Homo sapiens: one gene and its partner. The gene in region 2 interacts genetically with the main gene of each other region. Each region holds a gene or a part of one and is shown on either strand. Other genes may lie near its edges.

The links.
Region 1: changes in PSMC3IP (region 2) and NF1 together harm fitness more than expected from each alone (negative genetic interaction), as found in Homo sapiens cells (one large-scale study listed by BioGRID).

The regions. Positions count from the first base shown.
Region 1 is NC_000017.11:31,101,341-31,105,159, reverse strand, and holds part of NF1 (neurofibromin), read right to left. Parts: intron 1-3,819. UniProt on the Homo sapiens protein: Stimulates the GTPase activity of Ras. NF1 shows greater affinity for Ras GAP, but lower specific activity. May be a regulator of Ras activity.
Region 2 is NC_000017.11:42,571,694-42,574,932, forward strand, and holds the end of PSMC3IP (homologous-pairing protein 2 homolog), read right to left. Parts: intron 2,642-3,239; exon of another isoform or gene 2,623-2,641; intron 2,518-2,622; coding exon 2,406-2,517; exon of another isoform or gene 2,126-2,405; intron 1,931-2,125; coding exon 1,785-1,930; intron 1,672-1,784; coding exon 1,618-1,671; intron 1,511-1,617; exon of another isoform or gene 1,474-1,510; coding exon 1,414-1,473; exon of another isoform or gene 1,332-1,413; coding exon 1,275-1,331; 3' UTR 617-1,274; downstream 1-616. UniProt on the Homo sapiens protein: Plays an important role in meiotic recombination. Stimulates DMC1-mediated strand exchange required for pairing homologous chromosomes during meiosis.

The DNA of each region.
Region 1 (3,819 bases), about 11 Mb from region 2:
TGGGAAGCCAGGTGGGAAGACTGCTTGAGGCCAAGAGTTTGAGACCAGCCTGGGCAACATAACAAGACACTGTCTCTACGAAAAAAATTAAAATAATAGCCAGGTATGGTGGCGCACGCCCATAGTCCTAGATATTCGGGAGGTGGGAGATCACTTGAGCCCAGGAGTTCGAGGCTATGGTGAGCTATGATCACACCACTGCACTCCAGCCTGAGGAACAAAGAGAGACCTCACTTCTAAAATAAATGAATAATAAACAATTTTTAAAAACCAGTTATATGCAGAGAATATAACTATATATCACAGGCATATAACATTTGAAGTGGTCAAATGGATTGCCTTTAAGAGAATTTAGCGAGGGTACTATAAACAGCAGTTATAGTTTATATCCTATAGCATTAAACACCTGAGAGTACTCTGTTTACTGAAGGCTCTACCACATAGTATGATACAGAAATTTACAACTTGCTGAGACCTTAAACTTAATTCACAGTCACTACAACGTAAAACCACTTTTCTGTCCTTCAAGATCAAAACAAATGGTCTCATCTCTCCCTTCCCGCCCCCAAGAAAATGGGGTACTTTAAAAGATGTCAGATGAAACAAGCCAATGCTTTTATAAATACAAGTCAATCCTTTGCAAAGAAACAGATTAAGATGCTCATATTCTGCTTCGGTATTGATCCCAAGCCTTTTAACAGTTTAAGCTGACCACAAATCTCCCCTTCCACTTCTATAGAATATTCTCCTCCTTAAACTTCCTTTAGAGCCTTCCGATACCTCCTGTCCCTTGACTTATATACACACACACCTCCAAAATATACGCAGACCTAAGGAACACAAGTGGAAAACACATTTTTAATTAATACGCTGCTTATCCTTAAAAGTATGTCGTTAGAATGCAACAATATAGAGTCTACATAGAACCCCAGAATACCAAATTTGAAAGCTACAACAAAAATGCCCCATAGCAATCTGAGTAATTTAAAGAACAAAGATGTAAAAAATAAGGCATTCTTACTACTGTATTATATGACTTAAACTTTTGTTTAAGGACAAAATGTTTGGTTGGGTGCAGTGGCCGGTACCCAAATAAAAAACGAAAAACAAAAATACTTTCTCCATATTAAAAAAAAAAATTTTTTTTGAGACAGGGTCTCACCCAGGCCAGAGTGCAGTGGTGCAATCATGCCTCACTGCAGCCTTAATTTCCTGGGCTCAAGCAATCCTGACTCAGCCTCCCAAGTAGCATATACTACCACACTTGGCTAATTTGTCTGTTTTTTTTCTTTTCTTTACTTTCAACCAATGCACACTGGCTGATTTTTTTTTTATTTGTTTTTTTTACTTTTTGTAGAGATGGGGTCTCACTCTGTTGCCCAGGCTGGTCTCAAACTCTGAGGCCCAAGTGATCCTCCCACCTCAGCCCCCCAAAAAGCTTGAATTATAGGCATGAGCCACCGCACCCAGCCAAAACATTTTTTAAAAGCAGACTTAAGGCCAGGTGCAGTGGCTTGCATCTGTAATCCCAGCACTTTGGGAGGCTGAGGCAGGTGTTTGAGGCCAGCCTGGCCAACATGGCAAAACCCCGTCTATAGTAAAAATACAAAAATAGGGCCAGGCACGGTGGTTCAAGCCTGTGATCCCAGCACTTTGGGAGGCTGAAGCGGGCGGATCACCTCAGGTCAGGAGTTCAAGACCAGCCTAGCCAACATGGTAAAACCCTGCCTCTACTAAAAATACAAAAAAATTAGCTGGGTGTGGTGGCACACGCCTGTAATCCCAGCTACTTGGGAGGCTGAGGCAGGAGAATCACTTGAACCCGGGAGGCAGAGGTTGCAGTGAGCCAAAATTGTACCACTACACTCCAGCCTAGGCGAGAAAGCGAGAACTTGTCTCAAAATAATAATAATAATAAAGCAGATTTGAGAAAAGAATCTAATTTCCTAATGGTTAAAAAGTCAAATAAAAAGAGTAGGGCAAAAAACAGGAACATTTAAAATAAAATGTAACAATATTAGACCAGCACCACAGCTTATGCCTATAATCCCAGCACTTTGGGAGGCTGAGGCAGGTGGATTGTTTGAGGTCAGTAGTTTGAGACCAGCTAACATGGCGAACCCTTGTCTCTTTTAAAAATACAAAAATTAGCCAGGTGTGGTAGTACGTGCCTGTAATGCCAGCTACTTGGGAGGCTGAGGCAGGAGAATCGCTTGAACCCAGAAGGTGGAGCTTGCAGTGAGCTGAGATCGTGCCACTGCACTCCAACCTGGGCAATAGAGCGAGACTCTATCTCAAAAAAAAAAAAATGAAGAAGAAGAAAAAAGAGAACTTGTCAATGGATACTAAAGTAAGGTATATATTGGCCAAGGTACATACAAAGGAATATCCAGAGACTAGTCACGCTCTCTTTTTTTTTTTTTGGAAGACAGGGTCTCACTCTGTCACCGAAGCTGGAGTACAGTGGCACAATCATGGCTCACTGTATGCTTGAACTCCTGGGTTCAAGTGATCTTCCTGCCTCAGCCTCCTGAGTAGCTGCGACTACAGGCACATGCCACCACACCCAACTAATTTTTTTTAGAGACAGCATCTCACTATGTTGCACAGCCTGGTCTTGAATTCAAGGCCTCAAGCAGTCCTCCCACATGGGCCTCCCAAAGTGCTGGGATTACAAGCATCAGCTACCGCACCTGGCCTACTCTCCCTTATTTAATGAAAACACAATAATCAGTAATAAGCTACACTGCACTCTAGCCTGAGTGACAGAGCAAGACTCTGTCACACACACAAAAAATAATAATAATAATAAGCTATAAAGAAAACATATAAATCTTATATTAGAAAAATTTTAGACTTTTCAAAGTGCTTCACATTCATATTCTATCACACCATTGCAAAATATCCTAACAGTAAGTGACAAATCCAAAATTACAAAAGTAGTTGATCAGATCTGAAACCTGATTCAAAAAACATGTTTGCTCTATGGGAGGAAATATAAATATGTATAAATTCCTTCTTTATGCTAATTTTCTTACTCATTCCTAGTTAAAATATCACTTATCAGACCTAGGCTATTGCAAACATGGAAGTAAAATTCAGTAAAACAAAGCCAAAAGTACCACTTTTTTTATTTAGCCAGTCTACCCTTCAACCAGGAATCATATGAAAAACATTCCATCAATGTTCTGTGTGTTTAAGACTGTGCTGGGCACTGGGGTGACTAGAAGAGAATTCAAATAGCGTTCTTTGCTTTTCAGAAAGTATGCACTCCATTTGATAAAAAGACAAGAAAAAAAGAAAACAAAGCCAAGCTGTGTTCAAACAATCCTCCTAAAGGAAGAAAACTTACTGTGTGGTTCTGTAAAACTCCAGGTAACAAGGATACCAAGAAGTGAGATAGCAGAGTTTAGTCTGAAACAACCTCATGGGGAAAAAAAAAAAATGAAATCTGAGCTGAACATTGAAGGATGGACAGGAATTAGAAAAGCACAAAGGAGGAATTAAAGCATTCAGGCAGAGACTGGCAGAAATAAAGGCCAAGAAGTGGGAAGAAGCATGATACACACAGAAGAGACTGAGGTGACCTGCCTGGAACATAGGTGCATGCAGAGGCATAATGGGAAAGAGTTTGGTAAATCAAGTGGGGTCAGCTCCCAATAGACTGCTGGGTCACAGAGACATGCTGTTAGAATATTAAAATCATCGAATATTTAAACTTGAAAGAATCTAAAAGATTTTCTAGCCATTTCTTTTTCAACAGATGAGGAAATCAAGGATCTATAGGAAAGCTAATGGCTAGGATAGGGACAAAGGCAC
Region 2 (3,239 bases):
AACACCTCACACTGGTCAGCTGGTTTCTACTTGGTGTTTGGTTTTTCCCAGCCCCATTTTATCTTCAGCGGAGCCGCGGTGTTTGTTTTGTGAAAGCTTCTGATTAATTTATTATATTGACGATAAAACTCAAACCTACCCAGCCTTCCCCCCACTCCATGGAAGTCCTTGGGATGGGCGTCTGCTCTGGACACCCCAAAGAGCTCCTGCCCTCTCAGCCCTTTATTCAAGCCTCAGATTTCTGCTCATGATCTACATAGATTTGGAAACTGTTTTCCTCTGTTTTGGTCTCTTGGGCAACATTTTTGGCCCAAGTTTGGGCAACATTTGGCCCAAGTTTGGGCATTTTGGCAGTAGCTGTATGGGAGAAAAAGAGTAAGAGGAAATATTCCCACAGCCATGAAGGGTGAAAGGGCACCTTGTGCCTAGACTAGGGCTGCCTGGTCAGTCCCAGGTGAGGCCAAGGGCTTTCTGGCCATCTCAGGGAGGGGCCACCAGGTTCCTCCCCTCACCCCATATTCCATCACCTTCCTCCTCTGCTCTGGGTGGTAAGGGAAGCCCTCCCGGTTCCCACAGGCTATGATGCTGCATGGCAGAGGCAGGTATAACACAGCACTACATATTGGAAATTTTTTATTTTTCTAAATACCAATGCAGTTTTGCTACGGTTACAATTTTGAAATATTAACTGAGCCTCAAAATCACCCTTTCTGTCAAGCATATCTTGGCCTCTCCCATGTCTCAGTGTTGCCTGCATTTCTCCCAGGACTTGGGGGTGGGGTGAAAAGCGTACAAAAGATACTTAAAAGGGCTCCTGGGGTACACAAGCCCAGCAGGTCCTGAGTGAAGCCGTGGGCCCTCCAAATGCTCGTTTTATAGCAACCTCTCTCTACCCTAGTTCTCCAAATTCACTTCTGCCTTCCTCAGGTTTGATATCTGGCAGGTTTGACTATCCAGAGGAAATTAAATATTTTTATATAAAATTAAATTATAATAAATATTGCCAAATGCTTTCCTTTAGCATTGTTCCAAGTCTAAATGTTAACCTCAAGCTACTGCAATTTAGACAATGAAATGGGCTGGGTCTACCCCCAGCCACCAGCCCTCATCCTCTCTACCCAGTGCTCTGGTTTATGCTTGTCTCCTGACTGCTCTGCTTAAAGGTGAAAGTAGCAGGAACAACAACAAAAGCCAACCAAAAACAAGGTAGCCAGTGCAAGACATCTCACTCTTCTGACATCCTGCAGTCCCCACCAGTCCTGACCGTGGGCCCCTCAGGGGTCTGGGAGTGTGACGTTGTAATCTTCATCCGTCTCTATCCCAACTTCCTCCTGTGAGACAGGGAGACAAGTGAATGAGATGTCACCAGGATAAGACCACAGGGAAGCAAAGAAGGAAGAGAGCTCCACTTACAAAGAACTGCTTCTTGCTCTTGGGGTATCCTTCAAGTATTGCATCAGACAGCTCTGTAGCCTGACAAGAAATAAAACCACCCGTTTTCAGATGGGCAGCACTGGGCACTGCCTGTCAGTTTATGATATTGTGTAGCGGCTGATCTGGTGCCTGCCATTTTCAAAGGCACCTCCAGGGCCTGTCTCGGAGCTCCCACACACTTACCATCCTCTTCCTCTTCCTCCACTCCTTACAGTACTTCTGCCTCTCTCTGTACACCTAGAAGGAAAAAGCAAGTTCCTCTAACTCCTCAGAACCACAGCAGCCCTCTGGGGCTCAGCCCTGATGTTCACTCTGGACCTGCACAGCGGTCCTACAGCCTTCCAGCTCACCTGCTCTTTCTCTTCTGGAGTCACATGATTGGTAGCTGCTTTAATGTTCTTCAATCTCTCTCTGTAGCCAGCGCATTCCTTCTTTAACTCCTGGATTTCTTTCTGCATCTCTGGTGTGGTCAGGGCACTAGATAATTCCTTGAGCTCTGAAACCACATCCGCCTGGGGTCACTTGCTACCCCTGAGGAAGGAGTTCTGTCTTTCCCAGTGGGTGCTCCCTGAGGTGTTCCACCTTGCTCTGGATCTATCATCTCACATGGAAACTAAGCCATACAGGATTATTTATTCTTCTAATTTTCTTTCCTCCTCCATCTACAAGTGGCGTGGGTGTGAGGTTGAACACTTACTTAGGCGTAGCCAGTTAAAGAAGCAGGAATAAAGGGAAACGTGGGGACAGTGTACTGATAATCGTGGCAGGGAGAACAAATGCGTATCTTGTCCATTTGTTGGTACACAAAAGCCGTTAGTTATCCTACATTTCTTTTTATGCCTAAGGGAGCCCAGCAAAGGGGTCTTAGCTGCAACAAGATGCTGCAGTCATTGAACCATTCATTTAGTAATTCCTGACCTCTAGAATGAACCTAAGCCTATGGGCACTTTGGAGGGGCTACCCAGTCCTACCAGCCTCCATGTAGCGGCAGCTCTGCTGCAAGCTCTGCACCTTAGCAGTGAGGGCCACGATTTTGCCATCTAGGACTTGAAGGTCAGCATCACTCACCATGTCAAACTGGTCCTGCCAGACAAAGAGGGAAAATACAAGTGAACTGTTGTGAGGCACAAAGATGGGAACACACACCTGGGAAGGCACCATTTGGATATGCTCAGGAACCAGCCACACCCCAAAGTCTCCAGAGGGTCTGCAGAAATAGTGGGAGAGTACTTTTGAGAAATTGTTTTCAGTTAAGGAGCGGCCCCACTAAAAAGGTAGGAAAGAAAAGCTGAAATCTAATGCTTGTCCTTAAGCTACTAGGTTGACAGGATACTGATTAGGACAGAAATCTTCCCATTTAGTGATAAAACCACTACCTGGGCTGAAGCAGTTAAGTAACATTGTTCCCACGGTGGGGAAACCTAGATCATGGGTTTCCATAATAGATAGAAACTGGACAGGTGAAGAAGCATGATGGATGGGATGGATGGACTTCTTTTCTTCTTCCTTCCTGTCCTTTCTTCCCATCCTTCTTTCCACCTTCCTCTCTCCCTCCTTCCTTCCTTCCTTTTTCCTCCCTCCCTCCCTCCTTCCCCCTCCCTTTCCCTCTCTCTTTCTCTCTCTTTCTCCCTCCCTTCCCTCTTTTCCTCTCTTTCTTTCTCTGTCACCCAGGCCAGAGTGCAGTGGTGCAATCTTGGCTGACTGCAACCTCCGCCTCCTGGCTTCAAGCGATTCTCATGCCTCAGCCTCCTAAGTAGCTGGGATTACAGGCGCGCACCACCAAGCGCAGCTAATTTTTGTATTTT